Linked DNA regions of Homo sapiens. The protein of the gene in region 2 interacts with the protein of the main gene of each other region in a pairwise test. Each region holds a gene or a part of one and is shown on either strand. Other genes may lie near its edges.

Region 1 (7,022 bases), on a different chromosome or scaffold from region 2:
TATTAATAATCAGCCTCTCCCTAAGTGTATGTTATTCTTTGAAATATTAGCCATTGATAGGATGAGTCATCCTAGTTAGCAAGATATTTAGAAATAAGTTCTAGTGCATGAAGACAAATGGCTTCAGATTTTTTTCTTTTCTGATTTTTTGGTTTTTGTTTGTTTTTTACTTTTATTTATTTATTTATTATTTATTATTATTATTTTTTGAGACGGAGTTTTGCTCTTCCACCCAGGCTGGAGTGAAGTGGCGTGATCTCAGCTCACTGCAACCTCTGCCCCCCAGGTTCAAGCGATTCTCCTAACTCAGCCTCTTGCTTAGCTGGGATTACAGGGGCTTGCCACCATGCCCTGCTAATTTTTGTATTTTTAGTAGAGACGGTTTTCACCATGTTGGCCAGGCTGATCCTGAACTCTTGACCTCATGTGATCCACCTGCCTTGGCTTCCCAAAGTGCTAGGATTACAGGCGTGAGCCACCATGCCCGGCTTATTTTAATGTTTAAAGTCAATCCTGTATTTGGCAGAATTTCACTAAATTTAATGATAAATATTTAGGAGATTCTTAGTGGCTAATTCATAGTCTGAGTCACTGAAAGTCCTCATCATTTGGGAAAACATGTACTTTCTAACAGTGGAATGTAGTTCATAAATACATAAATATACAGATGTTTGAGTACATGCCCAAAAGTATGTTACCAATGGGGTGTGTGGTCAGAAACATTTGAAGGCCTTAGTTCTAATCACTGGAATCTTTGGTTTAAATTTTGAGGGTTTTTTTTGTTTTTGTTTTTTAAAACTGCTCCGAAAGAGTCAGTTATGTTGTTTGTACCTGTCATCCTTTTTCCATGTGCCTCAACATTTTCGTTATTCTTTTTAATATTCCCTGTAAGAGTTGGCATTAAGGAAATTGAAATGGGGACTTGCACATCTGCATGCAGTGTGTGGCTTCTGAGCAACTTAATGTCAGTGCAGAGTTTCTATACGTCTTGAACACAGAGTGCTTTTTTTACTTCAGAATATTCAATAATGAGCTGTGCAAGTCCTAGGCCTTTTGTATACTGATTAATTCATCATTCATTCATTCATTCATTCAGTGAACACTTAGTAAATGCCTTCTGAGTATGTGGCATCATGCCAAACATGGCAAACAGGGTAGGAAATACTTTCATTCTGTACCGTGTTTTCATTCTTGGTCCAAGAAATAACTTTTCTTCAGGTTTTGGTATTAGGTCAGAAACATGTTGGGGGCAGGCACAATGGCTCATGCCTGTAATCCCAGCACTTTGAGAGGCTGAGATGGGAGGATTGCTTGAGTTCAGGAGTTCAAGACCAGCCTGGGCAACATAGTGAGATCCCATCTCTAAAACAACAACAACAACAAAGAATGAAAAAGAAATATGTTGTTAGTAGTAAGTATCCAGGTTTGAATCCATTACGTTGTTAGAGTTGGAGAAAGGTGAAAATTTATCTGAACCTCTGCCTCTGAAGGCTAAACATTAATAAGAACCTAGTGAGGGCCCACTTTTTAAGCTTGAACATTTCTTAATATATTTGATACATAGAAAAGAATACAATAAAGAATATACATAAAAAGAGGAACATAATATAGCAAACATCTGTAAATCTGCCAGATAACCCAAGAAGTAGCATGTTATCAATAACATAATGTGTTTATCCACGTTCCTGTACTCCTGTTTTGTTTTTCTCTTTGCCGTGTGTTTTTAAATAGTTTTGTCACATATATATGCATAACTAAATTACCTTTTTTTTTTTTTTTTGAGTCGGAGTCTCACTCTGTCGCCCAGGTTGGAGTGCAGTGGCATGATCTCTGGCTCAATACAACCTCCGCCTCCCGGGTTCAAGCAATTCTCCTGCCTCAGCCTCCCAAGTAGGTGGGATTACAGGCGCCCGCCACCATACCTGGCTATTTTTGTGTTTTTAGTAGAGACAGGGTTTCACCATATTGGCCAGGCTGGTCTCAAACTCCTGACTTCGTGATCCGCCAGCCTCAGCCTCCCAAAGTGCTGGAATTACAGGCTTGAGCCACCGTGCCCGGCCCTCACCTTTTTTTTTTTGAGACAGAGTCTCGCACTGTCACCCAGGCTAGAGTGCAGTGGCGCGATCTTGGCTCACTGCAACCTCTGCCTCCTGGGTTCAAGCGATTCTCCTGCCTCAGCCTCCTGAGTAGCTGGAATTACAGGCACGTGCCACCACTCCCAGCTAATTTTTGTATTTTTAGTAGAGATGGGGTTTCACCATGTTGGTCAGGCTGGTCTCGGCTGACCTCCTGATCTGCCCGCCTCAGCCGCCCAAAGTACTGGGATTACAGGCGTGAGCCACTCTGCCTAGCCACTAAGTTACATTTTTAAAAAATCAGCTTCGGGACATACGGTATCTCAAATTGATATTATACTGTATATAGTTTTTTGTGGAGACAATGTCTTCCTATATTGCCCAGACTGGTCTCAAACTCCTGGCCTCAAGCAGTCCTCCTTCCTCAGTCTCCCAAGGTGCTGCGACTACAGGCATGAGCCATCATGCCAGGCCAGTCCTTGCTTTTTTCGTTCAATATAATTCTCTTCCAACCATAATATCTGACATAGTGATAATTTATTCATTTTTACTGCTTTATTAAAGTACATGTTATACAAATACTACCATGATATTCCTGTCAGTGGACATTAGGTTGTTTATTTTCTTTATATTTTGTTGTTAAATTGACAGTGCTGTCATGAATATTTCTGTATATGTATCCTGGCACACAGCAGCAAGCATTTTTCTAGGGAGGTAGTTAATCAAACTTTAGCATGCATCAGAGTCACTTGGAGGAGGAGGAGGACTTGAGAAAACTGCTGGACTTCATCCCCAAAGATTAATATTCAGTAGGTCTGGGGTGGGGTAGGAATGTACATTTTTAATTTGCAGGTGAAATGTGGTTCAGATGCTGCAGGTGACAGGATCACACATTTGAGAACCACCACTCTAAGGTATAGACACATAGTTGTAATTATTGGGTGTTAGAATATGTAAATATTCAGTTTTGCAAAATAATGCCAGATTGTTTTTCAAAGTCATTGCAGTAATTTATATTCCCACCACCATTGCATAAATCTTCCCTATTGGTCCACATCCACTCCAACACTTGATATTACCAGTATTTTCCATTTTAAAATTTTCTTTTTTCACCTTAGAGTTAATTATCTCATCTTTTTTTTAAATTATCTCATCTTTTAAAGAATAAGATCATGTAAATATTTAAAATGTATTTGACTAAAAGTATAGGTAGAGAAAATTGAGTTCTGTATTTAGTTACTAGTGGTGATTAGTGGTTTTGTTGGGTAAATCAGCCTGCATAAATTCAACAATTTATGTGTATTGTATATTACATAATGCACAATAAATACTTGTGTATTTATCATAACAACTTTTTGCAAATTAATTTTTTTATTGGACCTTTAGGATCCAGGCAGACAGCCAGATTAGAAAATATTTAGTGATATGGTAAATTGTTTTTGATACTTTATTAGGATTGATTAAAGTGGCAATAAAAGTTGAATTCAAATACACAAATACTTGTGTATTTATTGTGTATTATGTAATAAATCTTGTGGGTATAAAAGAAAAAAATATTTTACATGCATGTGCAGGTTTTAATTTTTAAATTTAAATAATACAGGTTACAATTTGAAAATGGTGTTTAAAGGTAAATTAAAACTAGCCAATCGTACTAGGCATGGTGTTCCATTTACTCTCCAACTCATAGGCAGCTTTCACTTGTCATGGGATCTGAAATTTAAAAATAATTGACTCTGAAAAGTAGTATAATACAGACATCATGAACTTTAATAGACATGCTTCTCAATAAATGTAAAATGCTTCTATTCTTAGGGCCTAAGTTGTTAAGGTAGATAATCCCAGTGACATGGAAACATCAGGCCACATGGTGGAGATAACACATACAAAGTAAATGACCTTTGTAAGCACTATCATTTTATGATTTATTTGGCTCAGTATGAGGACAAAAACAATCTTAGTATATACTAACTGGAGCTTATGTCCATGATATACAAGATTTTTATTGCTCCTCTTTCTCAAAAGAGTTATATAAAGAAGAATGCATGTGCCAGTCTGTTTGCAACTTTCTCCGTAACTTAATCATCTTTTCCATATGTATGACAAATTTATGTTGATATATATATTTTAAAACCTGGTTTCTAATTAGTTTAAAATACAGAGTTTTTGCATATTTGAATATTAGTATTGCAACATAACTCCTTTTTATTTGTATGGTATTGTTAGTATGTGCGAATGATTAGTTGGAAAACAAACGTCAAGAATAGCCCTCCAAGTGAAAACAAGTATATTGGCCCAACTTAAGGGAAATTTTCAAATTTCTAGAACTATAAGATTCTTCGTATTAATTTTAATTCTGTTTTCTCTAATTGACCACCCTTTGGTTATTTCACTTAAAGGAAATTGTTAACTGCCTGATTGCAAACTGCTAAAATAATTTTATTTATAGAACTAGTATCTGGAGCTATGGAGACCTTAAAATAAATTAAAACTTCCCCCCTTATTACAAAAGTAATATAGGTTCATTGTAACAAATTTGGAAAACAAACAAAATAAAGCAAAAAACTTAGCAGGGTGTGGTGGCTCATGCCTGTAATCCCAGCACTTGGGAGGCTGAGGCGGTTGGATCACGAGGTCAAGAGATTGACACCCTCCTGGCCAACATGGTGAAACCCCGTCTCTACTAAAAATACAAAAATTAGCTGGGCGTGGTGGCACGGTTTTACCATGTTGGCCAGGCTGGTCTTGAACTCCTGACCTCAGGTGATCCACCCACCTTGGCCTCCCAAAAAGTGCCGGCATTACAGGCTTGAGCCACCATGCCCAGACTGCTTTAGAATTGCATTTATACTGTGTATTTTTTTACCCTAATGACAGTGTAAGAGACTTAAATGAATATGACTGTCACACAAAAAAGGTGTGTCCTACTTCAACACTCAACATTCAAGAAATATTTGTCAAAGACCTGCTGTAAGCCAGGTAATGTACCATTTGAACCTATGGCGGTTATTAGTAGAACAGCTCAGGAATGTACTTCTTTAGTGCTGCTTATCAGCTTTACCAAGGGATAATTGGTCACCTCTATTCACAGAATTCATAACAACTTTTTGCAAATTAATTTTTTTTATTGGACCTTTAGGATCCAGGCAGACAGCCAGATTAGAAAATATTTAGTGATACGGTAAATTGTTTTTGATACCTTATTAGGATTGATTTAAGTGGCAATAAAAGTTGAATTCAATTTATACCTAGACTGTGCTCCTTAGTAGTTTTACAGCCTACAAGGAAATACCTGTTGTACTTTGATTGCCTTGAAAATAGTCCTTGCCAAGCAGTATGTGTGGTTTTTTTCTATCATCTGGTCACATTTGACTTCAGTGGGGAAGAAACAGAAGATGGCAACATCCCAACCCTCTAAATAAAACAACAAACAGGTCTTGAGTTGTATTTCATCAGTTTGTTACTTTGGGTTCCTATGTCATGGGAAAGCCTAATAGAATTAAAATAGTTGTGTTTTTTTTTCTTCATTTTTTTTTTTCTGCTCTTTAAAATGGCACTGTCTAATAGAACTACTGAGATGATGGAAATTTGTGCTATTCAATATGGTAACAATTAGCCAGTGTGGCAGTTGAGCACTTGAAATGTGGCTAGTGTGACTGAACTGCATTTTAACTTTTAATTTTAATAGATTAAAATTTAAATAGACTCATGAAGCTAGTGGCTTCCACACTGGACAGCACAGCTTTAAAACATGGCAGGTGGCCTTTATTTTCATCGGAAGACAATAGACCCACAGAAAAACCAAGTCAATCATATGGAAGTAGACGACAATTCAAGTTAGTGTATTTTGAATAAGTCATATAAGATCTTAAGCTATAATATTACATTAAGTATTAAGCATAATACAGGCAGGTGCATTCAACTTGCATCTATTTTTTGGTATGGCCAAGAGAGAACAGTGAAAGAGATGCTGAGAGAGAAAGTTGATGTTAGGGCAAGGAGGGGATATCAGGCAAAAGAAAGCCATACTGAGATGTAAGAGCCAGAGGTAAATAAGAGGGAAAAGAAAGATTTAGAAAATTCTTTGTATGATGGCAACTATGCCAAGAACATTGAATTGGGAAAGAGGTGCTTGTGCTTCTTACCCTCTTTTCACAGCACCTTCTGACTGCAGGAGTTGTTTTGCATCTGCTTTGGTCAATCTCTTGCTCCTTTGCATGTTTGCTTCTCTCTTCTCTGTCTTTACTCTCTTCATGCTCTTTGCCTTAACACAACCCCAGCTTTGCCGTGTGCAATGCCCTAGGTACTGTATTTCGCTTCGCTTTGTCCCAGGAATGTGTATAATGCAATTACAGAATACCTCACTGTGTTGCAGAGGTGAACAATCATAGGAAATATGGGGGACATGTTTTAGTCAGGCTTTTTTTTCTTTTTTTTTTTCTTGGAGAAGGAGTCTCACTTTGTCGCCCAGGCTGGAGTGTGGTGGTGTGATCTCAGCTAACTGCAACCTCTGCCTCCCGGGTTGAAGCAATTCTCCTGCCTCAGCCTCCCAAGTAGCTGGGACTACAGGCACACGCCACCACGCCCGGCTAATTTTTTGTATTTTAGTAGAGATGGGGTTTCACTGTGTTGCCCAAGCTGGTCTCGAACTCCTGAGCTTAAGCAATCCATCCGCCTCAGCCTCCCATAGTGCAGATTTTACAGGCGTGAGCCACCGCGCCCAGCCCTACTCAGGCTTTAATTATTTATGGCAAGCCTGCTGTGTGTAGGACACTGTGCCAAGTGCTTTGCAGTATTTTTTTTATTGTGATAAAAGATGGAACAAAATTTATTATTTTAACCATTTTTTAAATGTGTAATTCATTGACATTGTTTACATTCACAATGTGTGTAACCATCACCACGGTTTATTTCCAGTACTTGGTCATCATCCCAAACAGAAATTGT
Region 2 (7,845 bases):
GGGCACAGTGGCTCATGCCTGTAATCCCAGCACTTTGGGAGGTTGAGGCAGGCGGATCACCTGAGGTTGGGAGTTCGAGACTAGCCTGGCCACCATGGTGAAACCCTGTCTCTACTAAAAATACAAAATGAGCTGGGCGTGGTGGCGCATGCCTGTAATCCCAGCTACTCGGGAGGCTGAGGCAGAAGAATCACTTGAACCCGGGAGGTGGAGGCTGCAGTGAGCCAAGATTGGACCACTGCACTCCGGCCCGGGCAACAGAGCGAAACTCTGTCTCAAAAAAAAAAGTCCCTGGCCCGGTGCCCAGGCACAGCATGTGTGCAACAGATGCCAGACACGTTTTTGCTTCCCTTGCTTCTGGTAGTACCATCAGCACAGTGCAACTTACACAACCAGCCACTCAGACGCCTGACAAAACCACATAGAGGTGGGCTTGGATCAGCCCAGCTCCTCCAGAAGCCTCTCCCAGCTCAAGACCCCTAGCTGCAGAGGCTGCGCATCGCCCACCTGCGGCTGTCTTCCTCCTCACCTAAAGCCCCGTTGAGGTTCTGAAAGATCCGAGACTTATGATCCAGATTAAGGCTGAGTTTCTCCTAAATGGAATGAGATGCGATGGAGTGGTTAAAATGGAAGGAGTGGAAAGGACATCATTTCTCACTTTTCTCTCTCTTTTTTTCTTCTCTTGCTTTTGTTGCTTAGGCTGGAGTGCAATGGCACGATCTCAGCTCACTGCAACCTCTGCCTCCCGGTTTAATTGATTCTCTTGCTTCAGCCTTCCAAGTAACTGGGACTACAGGAGAGTGTCACCACGCCTGGCTAATTTTTGTATTTTTAGTAGAGACGGGGTTTCACCATGTTGGCCAGGCTGGTCTCAAACTCCCAATCTCAGGTGATCCACCCGCCTCAGCCTCCCAAAGTGCTGGGATTATAGGCATGAGCCACCATGGTTTTCCTTTTTTTGTGAGAGACAGAGTCTCATTCTGTCACCCAGGCTGGAATGCAGTGGTGCAAAACATCCTCAAACTCCTGGGCTCAAGTGATGGTCCCACCTCAGCCTCCCAAGTAGCTGGGATTACAGGCGTACACCATGAAGCCTGGCTAATTTTTTCTTTCTTTTTTTTTGTAGAGATGAGGTCTCAACTATGTTGTCCAGGCTGGTCTTAAATTCCTGGACTCAAGCAATCCTCCTGCCTAAGCCTCCCAAAAGTCTTGGATGACAGGCGTGAGCCACCACGCCCAGGCACACATTTTTCTCTTTGCAACCCCCTTTGCTCCCCAAATCCCATTCAGCCTGAGGCCTCCACTCCCACAGAGCTGCGGGATGCGCCCACTCCTCTGCCTTCCCTACCCTCAGTCCTGGGTCCAGGTAGAGCCGTGTGTAGAACAGCTGGTCGTCGTCATCATCCTTGTACTTCCACTGGCGCACGATTTGGTGGATGGTGGTGGCAAAACCGATGAATCCTGGCGGGGAGGGGGAGTGTTGACCTCGAGACTCCCAGGGTCCCAGGGCCTGTCCCCCAGGCTGTCTCCAGCCCTCAGGCGCCTTTAACACTCTGTGTCCCACCGCTCTTGGCCCCTCTGCCTTGGGCACTCTGCCACTCACCACCAGAATTGAGGAAGCGCTTCCCCGTGCCCACCTCAGGGTACTGCTCCGCCAGCCCCCACTCGGGCCAGCAGAAGCTCTCTGCAGAGAAGAGCAGGCGGCTGCCACTCTGGACGAACTTCTTCAGCAGCTCTGTGGGGCTGCCGGCCAGAATCACGTCGTAGCTGGGTGAGGAAGGGGAGGATGGGCAGGGGTCCACTGGGAACCTCAGCATCCTTACCCCGCTCCCTATCCCCAGCCCCGTTACCTATCCACAAACATGATGATCATATCCTCCCGGTCAGCGTATTTCTCCATTTCCTTCTTTAACCACCGGACCTTCTGTCCTCCACCAACTGTTCGAGCCACATCACCCCCTCGCCACTCCTCTCCCAGGCCCAGGGTCTGTGGAGAAGATTGCCCCGTGCCAGGCAAGGGGTGGGGAGTTGTGGGGGGAACTCCTGACCAGGCTTACCGTGGGGACCTGGGCATCCAGACTTCAGCCCACCCCTCCTGCTGGGACCCCCTCCCAGGGGCCTTTCCCTCTCCTCACCCGCACAGTGTAGTTGAAGAACTCCGCAGAGCGCAGGAAACGCAGGTACCCCTCGGTTTCAGCTGTGGCCACAGTGATCACCAGCAGCTTCTCTGTTACCAGAGGGAAATGGCACTTGAGATCCACCGCCCAGCTCCGGGCCTCACGTGCTTTGCTGTCCTCCCTCTCACTCGACTTCCCTCCCTTTCTTCCTTCCCATTCTTAAACTCTTCTCACCCAGGAACACTCTGACCCCAAGGAGGGCAGGGTGGGAGTGGTGCCCAGGAATTCCGAGTCCCTTTGCATAGGGAGGCTGGAAACCCCAGTTCAGGGTAGTGATGGGCGAGGGGCTTGGCGCGACTCAGCCTCAAGAGCACGCTGGGCGGGGGACGGGCCAGACACCTCCTCGAGCCTCCGACCCTCTCCGGGCCAGGCTGGCAGGCACGCCAGCCTCTGCCCCCTCGGCCGTGCCGGGCCTCCCCGGGATCTCACCTGGGTTGACCGGGTCTCGGCCCCGGGGCCGGTCGGAGGCTGAGGCCGCAGGGGGCAGCAGCAGCGGCAGCAGCAGCAGGAACCGGGGTCCAGGCCCCGAGGAGGTCATGGTGGGGAGCGGGCCCAGACAGCACCCAGGATCCTGGGATCTCCGCTACGCGCCTGGATCCCAGCTCCGGAGGGGAGCTCTGGAAAGGGGGCGCTCGGGCTGCTGTGCGGCCGCCGCGGGGAGCAGCTTGGCTGGGGCTACGCCCTGAAAAAAAGGCGTATCCGGAGGCTACAGAAAGCTCCAGATGCCGGCGCCACAGACAAGGCGAGGATTGTCCCGGGCGCACGGGAGGCGGGGGAGGGGCGGCGGCTCGGGCCGGCGGGCGGGAGACAGGGACTCTGGGCTGAGCCAGCCGCTTGACACATGTGGAAGCTGAAACCTGGACAGGGGAAGTGACCCCTGGCGGAGGGTCGGGCGGGACGCGGGGGCGGGTCCTGGCCGCAGCCCTGCCCAGAGAGTGCGGGCGGAAGACGGGGAGAGCGAGAGGCTGGCGGCGACAGGGAGGGAGGAAGCCTAGGAGTCCGCCGCGGGACGGAGGCCTGGGGGAACTGGGAGTTCAGCTTTCTGCAGAGGGCCACTAGGAACCTCGGATTGCCCACGGAAGCCAGCCACTTTCTTTGACAGTCCAGCCCACCTCCTCTTCTGCCCGGAGAAGCTCCAGGGGCTGCCTTTGTGATCACAGCATCTTCACAAGGACCAAAGGAAAATAAGATTTCTTGTAAGAACACCGTGACCACATCTTTAAAATGACCCATTTCGTGGCTCCCACAAGATTTACACCTCCACACTGAGGCCGGAAGTGGTTTTGCCCCTATAAAACATGGCGAAAAGCTTTCTTGTCTCCAAGGAAACGCCACGTAATGAGTCAAAGCTGTGGCGCACGCGCAGAAGTACAAGCTACCGGAAGTGATGGCGCCCCTACTAAAGCCTTGGGGTTAGTACGCGTGCGCAGCAGTTTCTTCCGACAGTTGTGTTGTGCCAATGGTGGAGAAGAAAACTTCGGGTATGTGAGCCCCCGCGGTTCGCCCCCTTCCCCTTCCCAAGTCAGTCCTAGAATTTTCTTACCTAGTCATTCCTCTTTTTTGGTCTCGCTCTTTCGCCTAGGCTGGAGTGCAGTGGCATAGTCATAGCTCACTGCAGCCTCGATTTCCTGGGATCAAACCATCCTCCCACCTCAGCCTCCGGAGTGGCTGGAACTGCAAGCATGAGGCCCCACGCCTGGTTAATTTTTAATTTGTTATGTGGTGACGGGCTCTCGCTATGTTGCCCAGGTTGGTCTCCAACTCTTGGCCTCAAAGCGATCCTCCTGCGTGGGCCTTCCAAAGTGCTGGGATTACAGGCGTGAGCTGCCGCGCCCGGCCCCAGCTATTCCTCGTAAATCCCTTCCTCAGCCCTCGGGTCCTGGCGTTGACCCTTCATTCACGTTTTATTGGTGCCTGCTCCAAGCCGGGCGCTGGGGATGAAGAGGAGAAAGACCCCTCTTATCCAAGCATTGGCTTTTTCTGGAAGGGGGGCAGAAACGCAGACCTAACACTGTATTTTACTGTGATTTGTGATTTGTGCTATGGCAGAGGGAAGCACAGCGCCTGGGAACAGGGAGACGTGGCATCTAGCCCAGGTTCTGGGAGGCAGGGGACTGTGAAAGCTTGAAGGAAAAATGAAAAAGCTTGAATTGAGTCTTGAAAGTCTAGTTAGGGTTTCTCTCAGTGGGAACCTCACGTGCAAAGGCAGTGAAGCAAGAAAAAGCAAGTCGCTTAGGAAGCCAAGTTCACAGTTTGGATCTTACAGAGTAATAAGAAAGGATCGAAGGCTGGGGAAAGGTTACATTTTGAAAGGCATTATACACACTGCCCAGGAGTTTGAACTCTGTAGGGAAACACTGGAGAGCCAGCAAAGACTTTTTTTTTTTAGACAGAGTCTTGCTCTGTCACCCAGGCTGGAATGCAGTGGTTCTATATAACTCACTGCAGCCTCAACCTCCCATGCTCAAGTGATTCTTCCACCTCAGCCACCTGAGTAGGTGGAACTACAGGTGGGTGCAGGCCACCATGCTGGGCTAGTTTTTATATTTTTTGTTGAGATGGGTGTCTCACTATGTTGCCCAGGCTGGTCTTGAACTCCTGAGCTCATGTGATCCTCCTGCCTCGGCCTTCCAAAATGCTAGGATTACAAGTATGAGCCACTGCGCTTGGCCCTTTTAGTTTTTCTTTCTTTCTTTTTTTTTCTTTTTGAGACGGAGTCTTGCTCTGTCCCCCAGGCTGGAGTGCAGTGGCGCAATCTCGGTTCACTGCAAGCTCTGCCTCCCGGGTTCACACCATTCTCTGGCCTCAGCTTCTGGAGTAGCTGGGACTACAGGCGCCCGCCACCACACCCAGCTTATCTTTTGTATTTTTAGTAGAGACAGGGTTTCACCATGTTAGCCAGGATGGTCTTGATCTCCTGACCTCGTGATCCACCCGCCTCGGCCCCCCAAAATGCTAGAATTACAGGCATGAGCCACTGCGCTTGGCCCTCTCAGTTTTTCAAAGGCATCGCAGTCTCCCAGCCATCAGTTTTTTCATGTTGGCCTCAAGGTCTGAAATACCCCGCTGTCTCCCCTAGCCAGGTCATTCACCAGTTAGGCCTTAACCTAGACTTACCTTCTTCTGGGAAGTCTTCCCTGACTACTCCAAGGCCAGGTTGGGTGTTTCTGTCCTGGGCTCTGCAGCACTTTATACTTCCGTATCCTAGCCTACTCCATGCTGTACTTACTGTGTTTGTTTCATTAATCATTTGTGTTTGCCACTGGACTGTAAGCTTTGGCATCCCTAAAACCTAGAGCACTGCCTGGCATTTGGAGGGGAGACAGAGTAGTACAGTGATCATAATCATATTTTTTTTTGTTTGGTTGGTTTTGGGTTTTTTTTTTTTTTTTTTTTTTTTTGAAACAGGGTCTTGCTCTGTCACCCAGGCTGGAGTGCAGTGGCACAAACACAGCTCACTGCAGCCTTGAGCTCCTGGGCTCAAGCAATCCTTGCGCCTCAGCCTCCTGAATAGCTGGGACTACAGGTGTGTCCCACTACACCTGGCTAATTTTTGTATTTTTTTTGTAGAAACATGGTTTTGCCATGTTGCCCAGGCTGGCCTCGAACTCCCGCGCTCAAACAATCCACCCACCTTGGCCTCCCAAAGTGCTGAGATAACAGGCATGAGCCACTGCGCCTGGCAAGGTCATGCTTTTTGATGCTGGGTAGTTCTTTGACTCCTGACCTGGCCACTTGTTAGCTATGTGAACTTTGGACACATTTCTTAATCTCTGAATGTTGGTAAATTGGGGATGATGATACTGTCCCATACAGCTGTTGTAAGGGTTAAATGGTTCAAGTGTTGCAAAGAGCTGAGCACGTGCCTGGCTCATAGTAAGTGTCCAACAAGTGATAGCTACTGGGGCTGCTGCTGTTATTATTATGCTTAACAGGTGGTTAATGAATAAAGAGATATATTATGCAAAATTATCAGAATCTGGCAAACAGCTGATAAGGCAATGAGGAAAGAGGTTTTTTGTTTTTTGTTTTTGAGACAGGGTCTCTCTCTGTTGCCCAGGCTGGAATGCAATGGCGCGATCTCAGCTCGCTGCAACCTCCACCTCCCGGGTTCAAGCGATTCTTGTGCCTCAGCCTCCCGCGTAGCTGGGATTACAGGCATGTGCCACCACACCCTGCTAATTTTTGTATTTTTAGTAGAGACATGGTTTCACCACGTTGGTCAGGCTGGTCTCGAACTCCTGACCTGAAGTGATGAGCCCACCTCAGCCTCCCAAAGTGCTGGGATTGCAGGGGTGAGCCACTATGTCCAGCCGAGGAAAGAGGTTTAAAATAACTTCTAGGTTTCTGGTTTGGATGTCTGCATAGACGGTTCCATTTGCGTAGAGAGAATCTGCAGGAGAAGCAGACTTGGATGGGAATTTTTTTTTTTTTTTGAGTTGCAGTGTCCACAGGGCCAGTGGGTGATTTCTTTTTTCCTTCTTTCTTTTTTTTTTTTTTTGGAGACAGTCTTGCTTTGTCACTCAGGCTGGAGTGGTGGCGCGATCACGGCTTGCTGCACACTGCAGCCTCAACCTCCCGGGCCCATGTAGTCCTCCCACCGCAGCCTCCCAAGTAACTGGGACTACAGGCATGTGCAACCACGCCTGGCTTATTTTTTAATTTTTTGTAGAGATGGGGTTTGGCTATGCTGCCCAGGCTGGTTTCTAACTCCTGGCATCAAGCGATCCTTTGGCCTCCCAAAGTGCTGAGATTACAGGCGTGCGCCACCACACCCGGCCTCACCAGGCGCTGGCTGCATGGCCAGTTCTGGAGCCCGGGAGCAGGTTCTGTGTTGAGGGAGTCACTCTGGGAGTCATTTGCTTGTGGGTGATCATCAGAGCCCTTTGTTTGGAGTCAAAATCCCAGGAAGAGTGCATAGACTGAGCAGAGAAGAGGGCCAGCCACCTCCATAGAGGCAGGGAGAGCAGCCGAGCTGGAGCCGGAGGATTCCTGGACATGGAGAAGGCCTGCAGTTTTGTCAAGGAAGCAAGCAAAGGGTCTCTTTCTACTCGATGAAGGTAGTCGGCACCGCCACAGGGTGGACAGGGCTCAGGTCCAAGGAGGAGGAGGAAGGCACACTGGAGCCGCTCTGGGGCCCAGAGCGTGGGTGGGTGGTCCCCCAGGATGACCAGGCAGGTGTCAGATTTTGGGGTTCAAGGAGAGGATGGGAGGTGAAAAAGTGACACATCACGTGAGTTGCTGTGAAGGAGAAGGAGCTGTGAAGCCGAGTAGACACATGAGCGTCGCCAGCTCTTTGATGGAAAGTGCCGGTTGAGGAGGAGGGGTTGAAGATGGGAGAGGGAGGGAATGGGCTGGAGGTGAAGGCTCGGGGTCAGTGGTGGGACTTGGGGCGCTCCAGGGCAGGGGTGTGCCCACTTGGCATCACGTTTGTGGGTAGGTGGCCTGGAAGATGAGCGTATCCAAGCATGGGTGGCCCCTGGTTCCTTTGAGGTAGGAGGTGAGATGCTGAGTGTGAGGGCCATGTGTATTGAGGGCCCAGGACAGCCTGGAAGCCCCAGGGCGCTGTGACCTCCCCAGTCAGCAGTGAGCTGTCTCCAGGCCGGGGCTCACTGGCTGGGACTGGGATTGAGAGGAAGGCGGAGAAAACAGGCAGGAGAAACTGAAA
Region 3 (7,022 bases), on a different chromosome or scaffold from region 2:
CTGAGGTATCTGTGAAATGTCTCCTCTTTGACTTTGTCTTAATTATCCAATGACCTTGTGGCTGCTCTAGGCTGCTCCCAAAGTCAAGGTGCTGGGAAACATTCCCTGGCAGGCCCCCCACCATCAGTCTGAAGGACTCTGTTTCTTTGGACACATGATCCTTTGGAGTTAATCCTTCCTTCTCAGTTCTGGCCTCATCCCCTATCACAAAAAGAAAATACAAATGTCAGTCCCTGATATCACACACACACACACACACACACACACACACACACACACAATATCTGTGCTGAAGAAGAAACAGAATCAAGTGGTTCTAATTTGCCCTGAATATATGGATATTTTCTAATATGCTCACAAGATGGCTGCCTAAGATCACCACACAACAGAGCCCTGCAAGGGACATGAAAACTCTATGAGACGGGAGGGAAGCAAGGCCAGGAGGCATTCCCATAAACAGTGTGAAAACCAGAAAACTGCAAAGACTGTTAATTAGGGCAGAAAGACTAAGAGAAAAATGAATGAGGTGGATAAAGATGCAAACATAAAAAAAGTAACAAATGGAAATCCATAAGTGAGAGGAAGACTCCCAAGATTAGAGAAGGGGCAGGCTGAGCAGTTCAAGCACTACAACAGGTCCCACAGGCTGAGATTCCTTAAGAGATGCTTGTTAAAAGACATCATGCATGTCATAACCTTGAAAAGAGAGCTGATCTCTACCATCAAGCTGGCTCTAGTAAAGCAGCAGGCTCCCATGCAGTGGTTGAGGATGCCATGCATGGCAACCACCACAGCATCCAGGAGAAAGGAAGGTTTGGAGGCTTGCCTTTAAAACCAAAAAGCACTGGAAATGTGAAGAACTCTTCCAAGAGTGAATGTAAGTCCCAAAGAGGGCCTGGTAACGATGCTTGCCATTTTTCCTAAAAGGTCTCATAGGTTGTGCATTTGTTTAATACAACAGTTTGAAAAGTGAACTACTAAACTCACATGATAATAAGGGAAAACCAAAGAGAAATATTCCCTCCACTATCAAAACCTTTTGCAGACTAAGTAAAATCTTCAGCCTGCATGCATTCACAAAAAATTGTTCAGAAAATATTTTTACTCAGATGACGTAGGGTCCTGAGGTCACATCCAGAAAGGTACAACTTAAACTCAAGACTTGGGGGTGGATCAGTAATGGGCATTCTCTGCAGAAGAGCACAGAAAATTTTCACAGGCAGAGAATGGGTGAAGCAGAATAAGAAAGATTAAAAAATATACTATGTTTTATGTATTTATTTATTTTTGAGATAGAGTCTCGCTGTGTCACCCAGGCTGGAGTGTGGTGGTGCAATCTTGGCTCACTGCAACCTCCACCTCCTGGGTTCAAGTGATTCTCATGCTTCAGCCTCCCCAGGAGCTGGTACTACAGGTGCACACCACCATACCCAGCTAATTTTTGATGTTTTTGGGTTTTTTTTGAGACAGAGTCTCGCTCTGTCACTCAGGCTGGTGTAGGGTCCAGCCCTACTGGGCCTCTGGGTTTTTCTCCTCATGTGCAGAGACGAGAGATGGTAGAAATAAAGACACAAGACAAAGAGATAGAAGAAAAGACAGCTGGGCCCAGGGAACCACTACCACCAAGATGCGGAGACTGGTAGTGGCCCTGAATGCCTGGCCGTGCTGTTATTGATTATGTACAAGGCAAAGGGGCAGGGTATGGAGTGAGAGTCATCTCCAATGATAGGTAAGGTCACACGAGTCACATGTCCACCAGACAGGGGGCCCTTCCCTATTTGGTAGCCGAGGCGGAGAGAGAGAGGGGACAGCTTACATCATTATTTCTTCTAGAAGGCAGAGCCAGGTGTACAGGGCAGAACATGAAAGTGGACCAGGAGCGTGACCACTGAAGCACAGCATCAACAGGGAGATGGTTAGGCCTCCGGATGGCTGCGGGTGGGCCTGACTGATGTCAGGCCTTCCACAAGAGGTGGTGGAGCAGTCTTCTCTAACTCCCCCGGGGAAAGGGAGACTCCCTTTCCCGGTCTGCTAAGTAACGGGTGCCTTCCCAGGCACTGGCGCTACCGCTAGACCAAGGTCTGCTAAGTAAGGGGTGCCCTCCCAGGCACTGGCATTACCGCTAGACCAAGGAGCCCTCTGGTGGCCCTGTCCCGGCTTGACAGAGTGCTCACACTCTTGTCTTCTGGTCACTTCTCACAGTGTCCCTTCAGCTCCTATCTCTGTATGGCCTGGTTTTTCCTAGGTTATAATTGTAGAACAGAGATTATTATAATATTGGAATAAAGAGTAATGCTACAAACTAATGATTAATAATATTAATATATAATCATATCTATAATCTATTTCTAGCATAATTATTCTTATTCTATATATTTTCTTTATTATACTGGAACAGCTTGTGCCCTCAGTCTCTTGCCTTGGCACCTGGGTGGCTTGCTGCCCACAGGCTGGAGTGCAATGGTATGATCTCAGCTCACTACGACCTCCACTCCCCAGGTTCAACCGATTCTCCTGCCTCCGCCTCCTGAGTAGCTAGGATTACAGGCACGTGCTACCACGTCCATGCTAATATTTTGTATTTTTAGTAGCGATGGAGTTTCACCATGTTGGCCAGGCTGGTCTCGAACTCCTGACCTCAGGTGATCCACCCACCTCGGTCTCCCAAAGTGCTGGGATTACAGGCATGAACCACCACACCTGGCCATATATATATATATATATATATATATATATATATATATTTTTTTTTTTTTTTAGTTGAGACGGGGTTTCGTCATGTTGGCCAAGCTGGTCTTGAACTCCTGGCCTCAAGTGATCCACCTGCCTCAGCCTCCCAAAATGCTGAGATTACAGGTATGAGCCACCATGCCCAGCCTATTTTTAATTCTTATATCAATAGCCATCGAAGTGAGAAAGTTATTCACCTTTAATTTACAATAAATTTTGCTTCAGAAATTTTTTTAAGTATCTGTGGGGGAAAGATGAAATAAGAATCAAAGGATATTTGTGACTGTTGAAGCTGGATGAAGGATACATGGAGTGCATTATGCTGGTGTTTGCATATATTTGAAAATTTCCATTATAAAAACAAACTTTTTATTCTTTAAGTCAGTGCTTAAACAATGTAGCCTATGATATGCAGATGGCCAGCCATGTTGCCAGAAGCCTATTTTCCTCCAAAGGTGGCTGACATCCTCATCTTTGCAAAAACAAACTGGCAGAAAAATAAAATGTTTTCATGTGACAGAGAAGAAATGAGCTGGTTTAAGTGCTGCCCAATCAGACAGTCTCCCTTGGCAGGTTGTGAGGAGGACAGGCAAAGACGAATATGCAAAGAAATCTTACAGTCATTCCTGTCTTAAAAGAGACTGGCCCTTCCCCAGTTGAGGTAGGCTACCACCATGAACTCAGAGAATCACATGTAATGATTCCACAGGAACAAAAACAGTCTCCCAAGAGAAGAAACACTTCTTGCACAATGAAATGTGAAAACAAGAAAGCAAGCCAAGCCAAAAAGGCAGCTAGTGGGTTCTCATGCTCACCTGGACAGATACCTCTGAGAGCCTCCCTGCCCATAGGTTCCCAGGGATCGAGGCCCCATGGCAGTTCCCCTTGCTCCAGCTGGGAGACCAGAACAGGCGTGGTGAATGGGAATGCTGCCCAGGGAGAAAGAAACAGGAAAAGGTAAGGGGAATCAGGAACCAGGATCCTCTTGCAGCCCCCTTTATCTTTATCTGCTGAGCCAGGTAGTGAGAGACAAGGTGAGTCAGGGAGAAACTTAATCTATGCTGCTGGAGGACAGAAATTTCCCACAAAGTGGCACAGAGTCCCAGAATAATCCCACGCTCACATAAGGGAATCTCAAGTTTTCTTCAGAGAACTTGGAAGACACAAGGGGCTTTGCTGTGCTCCCAAGAGCTCCTTTCCCCCCCATGTTTTGGGTACAGCCCCTCCCAGGGTTGGAGGGACAGGTGATTTCAAAACCTGGGAACGCAGGGCTCTCTCCACCCAGAAACTTCCAGGCAGCTCAGCCTTCAGGGCAACAGAGAGTTATTAGAAACCCCACAAAGTTCTCCTGCCAGGAGCGGTGGCTCACACATGTCTTCCCAGCACTTTGGGAGGCTGAGGCAGGAGGATCGCTTGAGGCCAGGAGTTCGAGACCAGCCTGGCCAACATGGAGAAACCCCATCTCTACTAAAAATACAATAATTAGCCGGGTGTGGTGGCGCCCACCTGTAATCCCAGCTACTTTGGAGGCTGAGGCAGAAGAATCGCTTGAACCTGGGAGGTGGAGGTTGTAGTGAGCCGAGATTGCGCCATTGCACTCCAGCCTGGGCGACAGAGGGAGACTCTTGTCTCAAAAAAAAAAGAAAAAAAGAAAAAAACCCCACAAAGTTCTAAGGAATAAAGAAGCCAGGATGCTTAAAGGGCAGAGGCCAAAAACAAGAAGAAATGTCTTACCCAGGGAAGCCACATTTGCATAATTCTCCAGCATCACTTCCCTGTACAGGGCCCTCTGCACAGAGTCCAGGCTGGCCCATTCATTCTGGGTGAAGTACACAGCCACATCCTCAAAGGTCACTGGTTCCTAAAACAACAAGTTCCTGCTCAAACCCTGTGTGAGGGCAGAGGATCAGGCTAAGTAGTGGGGCAGAGATCTACTGGGTCTAGTGGTATTGCCAAGGACAGTTATCCAGCACTCCACCATGAGGCCAGCCCTCAGCCATCTTTGCCCGCACCAACAGGGGAGTCCAAGGGTCATTGCACCCCTTTGTGGTCATCCCCAGCAAACAGCTCTATTTTCATCTGCTGATCTCTGCTTGCCTCCACTGTGCCCTGCTCTGTGTGCCCATCTGTTCCTCTGGGCTCCTTTCCCCAGTGTGGGTTTTGTGTGCACATGCACAGGGGACATCTGTATAAACACAGTGAATAACACTTTTGTACTGATCTTCACTCTCTCCCTAACCCCATTAAAGTGATAGTAACATAATAGCCCAAGAGAAGAGTCAAAGCAGGCTGGGCACAGTGGCTCACGCCTGTAATCCTAGCACTTTGGGAGGCCAAGGCAGGCGGATGGCTTGAGACCAGCCTGGCGATGTTGCCAACAGGGTGAAATCCCGTCTCTACAAAAAATACAAAAATTCGCCAAGTGTGGTGGTGCATGCCTGTAGTCCCAGCTACCTGGGAGGTTGAGATGGGAGGATCACCTGAGCTCGGGGAGGTCGAGGCTGCAGTGAGCTGTGTTTGCACCACTGTACGCCAGCCTGGGTGACAGAGTGAGACCCTGTCTCAAAAAAAAGAGAGAGAGAGAAGAATCAAAGCCAACTAGAGGTATAAACAGAATTTTAGAAGGCAGAAAGAGAATGAATGATAACTAGACTAGAAAAGCAGACAAAGATGAAACTCAACTTCTGGCAGAAGGGGAAGCAAACAAAAAGGGGCCCAATTCACACCACAGAACTAAGGATGAGCTAAGGATTTTGTAAATGTGCACTGTTGTTTATAACTTGGTAAAATATTCTATCTCCTTAAAAGCAACATAGAGAAGGAAGGACCAACAAAGTATTTAGGACAATGAATGAAAAATATCTACACATAGGCATGTAACTGAGACATCTCAGAAAAATGAGAATACACAACAGATCCTACAGGCTTTCAGAGAAGGAAAAACAACACACACGAAGACTGGGAAGTCGAGATGGCAACAGACTAAACACCAAAAGTAAAAGGGTAATGTTTTTGAAAATGCAGGGATTACAGATTACACCTGTAATCCCAGCCCCTTGGGAGGCCAAGGTGAGAAGATTGCTTCAGCTCAGAAGTTCGAGACCAGCCTGGGCAACATGGTGAAACCCCGTCTCTACAAAATATGCAAAAATTAGCCATGCAAGGTGGTGCTCCCAGCTACTCGGGAGACTGAGGTGGGAGGATCACCTGAGCCTAGGGGAGGTTGAGGCTACAGTGAGCCGTGATCGTGCTACTGTACTCTGGCATGGGTGACAGTGGGACTGTCTCAAAAAAAAAAAAATGCTAAGGGAAAACTTCCAGTTCTTATCTAGGTGGAATCACAGGGGCTGGATTTCCCCTCCTGCCTGAAACAAAATAACCAGACAAATTATATAAAACAATTTTCAAGATATCATGCAAAAAACGACAACAATCCCTGAGAAACAGGAAAGAAAAGAAGTGAGCCCTATAATTCCCTAAGCTACTACCCTGAGGAATTTCCAGGCTGCAACACAGGAAGGGGGAACTGAGGCAGAACCTGGCATATTTCCTTGTAGAGTCTGAAGAGACCAAGGCAGCTTGAGTTTATAGGACAGAATGCCAGAGAGGAGAGGGCTGCATAGAGATGGAATCTCAATTATCAGCAGAAGGTCCCTTTAGAGTATTCAACAAAATACAGATCAGTACATGGGTGTGGGAAAACTAACCAAGGCCAGAGAAAGGATCATTTGGAAAGACTGAAAAGAACGATGCCTGATATTTACACACCATTAATCCTATGGAAAATAGGAAAAAAAAGAGCCAGGCACGGTGGCTCATGCATGTAATCCCAGCCCTTTGAGAAGCTGAGGTGGGCAGATCACTCGAGGCCAAGAGTTCGAGACCAGCCTGGCCAACATGATGAAACTCCATCTCTACTAAAAATACAAAAAATGTGCCAGGCATGGTGGTGTGTGCCTATAATCCCAGCTACGTGGGAGGCTGGACACAAGAATCGCTTGAACCCAGAAAGCAGAAATTGCAATGAGCCGAGATCATACCATTGCACTCCAGCCTGGGTGACACAGTGACTCTGTCTCAAACAAAAGAAAAAAAAGAAAAGAAAGAAAATAGAAAAAGAGAATAAAAGGAAACAAAGAACAGATGGGACCATTACAAAACAAGTAGAAAGATGACAGGCCCAGATCCAGCCATATCAATAATGGTATCAAATGTAAATAATCTAAACATCCCAAAAGGCAAACATTGTCATATTGGACTTTTAAGCAAATAAGAACCTACTATCTGCTTAA

What was found. The genes of interacting proteins can lie anywhere in the genome.
Region 1: the proteins of PLOD3 (region 2) and KCTD9 interact in binary tests that used the Homo sapiens proteins (3 or more experiments, as listed by UniProt).
Region 3: the proteins of PLOD3 (region 2) and ZNF620 interact in binary tests that used the Homo sapiens proteins (3 or more experiments, as listed by UniProt).

The regions. Positions count from the first base shown.
Region 1 is NC_000008.11:25,448,412-25,455,433, reverse strand, and holds part of KCTD9 (BTB/POZ domain-containing protein KCTD9), read left to right. Parts: intron 1-1,858; exon of another isoform or gene 1,859-1,890; intron 1,891-4,952; exon of another isoform or gene 4,953-5,054; intron 5,055-5,763; exon of another isoform or gene 5,764-5,911; intron 5,912-7,022. UniProt on the Homo sapiens protein: Substrate-specific adapter of a BCR (BTB-CUL3-RBX1) E3 ubiquitin-protein ligase complex, which mediates the ubiquitination of target proteins, leading to their degradation by the proteasome.
Region 2 is NC_000007.14:101,214,560-101,222,404, forward strand, and holds the start of PLOD3 (multifunctional procollagen lysine hydroxylase and glycosyltransferase LH3 precursor), read right to left. Parts: upstream 3,023-7,845; 5' UTR 2,716-3,022; coding exon 2,607-2,715; intron 2,228-2,606; coding exon 2,136-2,227; intron 1,988-2,135; coding exon 1,851-1,987; intron 1,768-1,850; coding exon 1,604-1,767; intron 1,462-1,603; coding exon 1,349-1,461; intron 594-1,348; coding exon 530-593; intron 1-529. Other genes in the region: ZNHIT1 (zinc finger HIT domain-containing protein 1), read left to right, coding at 3,860-3,926. UniProt on the Homo sapiens protein: Multifunctional enzyme that catalyzes a series of essential post-translational modifications on Lys residues in procollagen. Plays a redundant role in catalyzing the formation of hydroxylysine residues in -Xaa-Lys-Gly- sequences in collagens.
Region 3 is NC_000003.12:40,509,039-40,516,060, reverse strand, and holds part of ZNF620 (zinc finger protein 620), read right to left. Parts: intron 4,592-7,022; coding exon 4,465-4,591; intron 3,660-4,464; coding exon 3,546-3,659; intron 202-3,545; coding exon 1-201. UniProt on the Homo sapiens protein: May be involved in transcriptional regulation.